2 separate regions of the Homo sapiens genome follow, and region 1 is linked to region 2. Evidence: fine-mapped QTL for protein levels in blood plasma. A gene starts in region 2. The other region holds a variant in brackets. All regions are shown on one strand. Distances are from middle to middle.

Region 1 (2,500 bases), 38 kb after region 2:
AGTGAGCCTAGATTACACCACTGTACTCCAGCCTGGGCCACAGGGCAAGATTCTGTCTCTCACACACACACCAAAAAAACAACAGATGGTGGACTCAAATTGTAGCTCCCCCGAATCTAGACGGCGGGGTGGGGGGAAGGGGGGTGGAATATGGAAAAATGAAAGTGGTGTGTTATTTGAAAAATGAGATTATTTGCGCACGTTAAACTAATAATACTAATGAGATAATAATAATTGAATTAAATCTATGACCTAGTCACTTTTTAAAGTACTATACATATTTAGTTCTCATGTCAGTCCTATAAAAGGACTTCTTATCCTCGCTTCACAGATAAGGAAACTGAGGCACTGAGAGGTTAAAGAAGCCATGCAAGGTCACCACGCCACTAAGTGCTGGAGCTGGAACTCCAACCCAGACAGTCTGGCTCCAGAGGTCATGTGCTTAACTATTACATCCTACTATGGAAAGAAGGACACATACACAGGGAAAGAAAAGATATTAAAAAGATAGTAAGAGGTTGGGTGTGGTGGCTCACATCTGTAATTCTAGTACTTTGGGAGGCTGAGGTGGGCGGATTGCCTGAGCTCAGGAGTTTGAGACCAGCCTGCACAACATGGCGAAGCCCCAGCTCTACTAAAAATACAAAAAATCAGCTGGGTGTGGTGGCACATGCCTGTAGTCCCAGCTACTCAGGAGGCTGAGGCACAAGAATTGCTTGAAGGTTGGATTTTTTAAAAACTTTTAAAAATGAATGTTTTAAAGACCCCTCACACTTGAGGGACTCGCATTTCTGAGAAGGTAGGGAGAGATATGATCTCCAGTACAATGAAGAGATTACGAGGGATTTTGGAGATGCATAGACCTTGCCAGTCTGAATGTGGCTTTGCCACTTTCTAACTGAGCAAACTTTGGCTAAGTCTTACCTGACCTGTTGTTGTAAGGTACTAAGAACGACATGAGATAATGTACATAAACACTTAACATGGCCTTCAGCAGGGCTGGGACTTGATAGAAAGCAGTTACAATAACCCAGCAATAGCAATCATGCAATTATCAGAGTGGTAATAGTAATGTGCTGTCTGTGGCAGTAAGAGCAACAGCAGTGGTATCAGTGTAACAATAGGAGCAGTGGTGGAAAGGATTGTCTTGCATGCACCAGAGGGTAGAGGTTTGGCAGAGAAATTTAGGTTGCTATTTTCTCCAGGAGGTAGAAAAAGCTAAAGTTATCTGCTGAAGGCAAATGGATAACTTGTTTTAAGAGGCTTGAATTTTGAGTGCGATTCTAACTTGGCTATTTTTTTTTCTTGCAGTACAAGATTCTACTGGACAGGATATATTGTTCGTTTTCCCTAAAGATAAGCTGGTGGAAGAAGGCACCAATGTTACCATTTGTTACGTTTCTAGGAACATTCAAAATAATGTATCCTGTTATTTGGAAGGGAAACAGATTCATGGAGAACAACTTGATCCACATGTAACTGCATTCAACTTGAATAGTGTGCCTTTCATTAGGAATAAAGGGACAAATATCT[A/G]TTGTGAGGCAAGTCAAGGAAATGTCAGTGAAGGCATGAAAGGCATCGTTCTTTTTGTCTCAAGTAAGTGTGCAAATTCTCTGTGGCCCTTTCTTCTCATTTCCTGAGGAATAGATTAAATCTCCTTTACTAGAAGACAAATAAACATTTCTACCCATGATCTTGATTTTCTTTTGTTTCCCAAGTTTTCTAGGAGAGGCTCTGAAGTCGATGTCCTTTAGTAATATTTCCAGGATTTCCTGTTGTTTTCTTGTCCTTACTGAGAGTTGTATTCCTAGAAATCAATAGTATTAAAGAAGACACAGTTCAGGTCATGACCTGGACCACTGGGAAAATACCCTTTTTTGCCCAGCCATGCTGGAATTACTTCGGGATCATGGAGGGAGGGTAGGAGCTACAGATTGGACAACCATGGAGTCAGCCAGGATTGTGGCCTAGGAGACCTGGGTTTGAATCTTCTTTCCCTGGCTGGGTGTGTCATCTCGCCAAGTTTCCTAGCCTCTCTGAGCCAGTTTCCTCCTTTGTAAAATGGGGACAGTGATGGTGATTGTGAGGATTAATGAATGTGGGTAGTGCCTAGCCCCAGTAATAGCTGCATGCAGTAGGAGATCAGCAAATGGAGGCCATTACTGTTCTTAACTGTGCAGTAAATTGGTTCCATCGGATACATTAGTGGAGTGGGAACATTTTTTTATATAGGTTTGTGTGTGCACAACTAGTGGCCTCCTGTATTTTGAGCATCTCCTTCCCTTGCACAGTAGGGAACATCTCCCTCCCTGCCTCCCTTGCCAAAGTCAGTCTCCAGTCTCCTGGATGCCTGGTTCATCTATGTCCCCTTAGCATGACCACTAAGGGCAGCAGTAACGCTGGGGATTTGGAGGTGCTTTGCCATTCCCTGAACACTCAGCTCCTGCCTGTTGAATTTAGCAGGTGTACAAATCTGACTGATTTCCTTGCATCCCCGAAG
Region 2 (3,019 bases):
TCTATAAAGAATAATTTTTTTTCTCAGTAAAATATAAAATCATAAAGACTTTCCAACTCTTGGGCTTGGCAGTTTCCATAACCATGCAGATGGCTAAACTAATGGACTCTTTAAAACTCTTCAAGTAATGAGAGGTGTGGCAAAGGACCATACATTTATTGAGACAAAAATACATTTTATTATCATCAAATATTTACTATGCATCATGGTCTTTGTGGCCCCATTAGGTATTAAGTGTATTAGGGCCTTTAGGCCTTTGTTTTAGGAAAAATAAAAAAACAAAAGGACTCTCAGCTTTCCTTGGGATGACATTGGGGAGGAGCCAGATATGTGAACAAACACAAAAGTAACATTTTAAAATAATTCTGACATTATTTTGAGTCATCCAGTCAATTCAATATAGGATTCTAAGATATGTTTATGGTCGATACTTGTTGATCACTCTTGGTTCCCTCCCCCACCCCCCTCCTACAACCTTGCTTTTGTGATACTTTCCAGGGTCCCCAAACTCAAACCAAACTAGGCTCAGCTGATCTGGAGCAAGGCCCCTTGCCTGCTGATTTGTCAGGCATCCAGACAGGCGAGGCTATGGGAGCTCCCGGTCCGAGGCTGCCTCGGAAGGCTCCTGTTATCCTCTAAGAGAGGTGAAATGCACCTTTCAAAGGCCCAGACACGGTAAAGATTGGATGGCATTTTTGGCCGGGCGCAGTGGCTGACGCCTGTAATCCCAGCACTTTGGGAGGCTGAGGCGGGCGGATCACGAGGTCAGGAGATCGAGACCATCCTGGCTAACACGGTGAAACCCCGTCTCTACTAAACATAGAAAAATTAGCCAGGCGTGGTGGCGGTCGTCTGTAGTCCCAGCTACTAGGGAGGCTGAGGCAGGAGAATGGTGTGAACCCGGGAGGCGGAGCTTACAGTGAGCCGAGATCGCGCCACTGCACTCCAGCCTGGGTGACACAGTGAGATGCCGTCTCAAAAAAAAAAAAAAAAAAAGGTTGAAGATTGGATGGCATTTTTAAGGGGAAAAGTAAACCATGTGTAGCATGTCGTAGCATTGGGAAATAAAGGTTTCGGGACTGTTGTAGCCGAAGAAACTTTGTCGGACAGGGCGTTTCTGGATAGAACGCGAGTAGGGGAAAAATGGGGACCGTTTGATTCGGTTCAAACACGTTTTCGTTGCTCTGGACGCCAAATGGAAACACGGCCAAAATTTAGTTAAAGGACTTCTCTTGCCTGAAGATTTTCGGACGGGGATCTCACGGGTTTGGCCTCTGGGTTGGGATGACAAGTGCCCCTGTGGGATACACAGCCCCAGGCCTCATCGGTCACTCGGCTTACCTCTGGTTCCGCCGGCTGGCCCGTGCGTCCTTGGCCGGGGCAGGAGCAGCGCTGCGCGCGGGGCACGGAGCCTCGGCCGCCGAGTTTTCGGTTTCCAAGTTTCCTTCCCAGGCCTCTCCCACTTCCTCTTCTCACCAGTGCCCGCCCGCCCGCAAAGTCCGGGTTGTGAGGCTGCGCCTCCCCCAGGATCGCGGCCGCCTCCCCCCGGGACTGAAGGGAGGGAATTCCTGTGGGTCCCAGGAGTGCCAAGAGTGCGCAGCAAGACGGGAAATTGCAAAAGACCTCACCCCTCTGCCCTCCCCCGCGGTTTTCCAGTAACTCCCGCCCCTCCGCGCTTGCCCCGCAGCTGATTCATAGCCCCGGCCCGGGCCGCCTCTGCACGTCCGCCCCGGAGCCCGCACCCGCGCCCCACGCGCCGCCGAGGACTCGGCCCGGCTCGTGGAGCCCTTCGCCCGCGGCGTGAGTACCCCCGACCCGCCCGTCCCCGCTCTGCTCGCGCCCTGCCGCTGCGCCGCCCTCGGTGGCTTTTCCGACGGGCGAGCCCCGTGCTGTGCGGGAAAGAATCCGACAACTTCGCAGCCCATCCCGGCTGGACGCGACCGGGAGTGCAGCAGCCCGTTCCCCTCCTCGGTGCCGCCTCTGCCCAGCGTTTGCTTGGCTGGGCTACCACCTGCGCTCGGACGGCGCTCGGAGGGTCCTCGCCCCCGGCCTGCCTACCTGGTGGGTGAAAACTAAATGATTCATTCCTTACAGGCCGCACAGTGCCGAGTCGCCCATTTCTCAGACTGTTTGAAATTCACCATCCCAGCGCCTTTTTCTCAAATGATGGTGGAATGTTTGTTGAGTGGAAAATTCCCACTTGAATCCCTCTTTCCTCTCTCCCAACACATCGTGTGGAGGAGTTCATTGCTTCCCCTACCTCTCCTCTCGTAACCCTTGACTCCCACCTGAGAGAGCCATTTTTCTGGGAATCCGTGTATCTCTCCCACCTGGTCCCTAGCGTAGAAGCGGGAGGAGCTCAAGCACAGGTGGAGAGAGGAATCCCCGGGCGACTCTGCAATAGCGTCCGTCCGGGGCGCTTACCTTCTTCTCCAGCCACTTGAGTGGAAGTGGCCCTCTACATTCTGGAAACCTAGGCACGGAGGGGTTCAGTAACTTGTCCAAGGCCATATGGCTAGCTGTGAGGGCACTGAAATCCGAGCCCGGCTCTCGCAGGCCAGGGCTTTACCCCTGACACCGCGATTCCTTTCTCGATAGTTCTTCATCTGCCCTTCATCCACCTACCCATGCATGCCTGCATCCGTCCATCCATCCTGCCTGCCTTGCTGCGGGAGGCACAGTGCTAGGTGCTGCTGATGGAGTGGCTTGGTAACAGACCTGCCTTGAAAACACTTTGGGAACAAGATATTCAAGAGAAGTAAATGGAAGGGTCTATGAAGGCAGAGAAGATAGAATTGAATGTAGGATACTTAGTTTGAGCTAGAAGGAATTCTGATGGAGGAGAAAGAAATTTTTAGGTTTTATTCCCAAGATTAAAACTGACTTTGGAACATGGGTCAAACTACTTATCACCTCTTAGTTTCCTTGTCTGCAAATAATAATGGTTCATACTTACTGTGAACCAGCCCCTATTCTAAGCACTTGACATATGCTAGCTCATTTAAGCTTCACGGGTGAG

Alleles and levels. Alleles are on the strand shown, and positions count from the first base shown. The strength of an association depends on the size of the effect and on how common the allele is.
For the plasma level of the protein whose gene starts at base 1,686 in region 2, A is the high allele of the variant in region 1 and G is the other (weak association).

What was found. PIP is the chance, under the fine-mapping model, that this variant and not a neighbour inherited with it causes the effect. Protein levels are from antibody-based Olink assays in UK Biobank. Linkage for the fine-mapping came from a reference panel and not from the study's own genotypes, which makes the PIPs less certain.
Region 1: its variant is fine-mapped to the plasma level of the OSMR protein (UK Biobank, PIP above 0.99). The variant lies in the coding sequence of OSMR. If it changes the protein, the assay may bind it differently, which can mimic a change of level.

Annotation. Positions count from the first base shown.
Region 1 is chr5:38,882,516-38,885,015 of GRCh38, forward strand. OSMR (oncostatin M receptor) reads left to right here. Exons shown (of 18, transcript NM_003999.3): 5 at 1,312-1,596. Among named protein-coding and RNA genes, the nearest start is that of OSMR, 38 kb to the left of the region's middle. The variant A/G (reference allele first, on the strand shown) is at 1,534.
Region 2 is chr5:38,844,327-38,847,345 of GRCh38, forward strand. It overlaps OSMR (oncostatin M receptor), which reads left to right and starts at 1,686. Exons shown (of 18, transcript NM_003999.3): 1 at 1,686-2,061. OSMR-DT (OSMR divergent transcript) reads right to left here and starts at 1,503. Exons shown (of 4, transcript NR_109951.1): 1 at 1,342-1,503.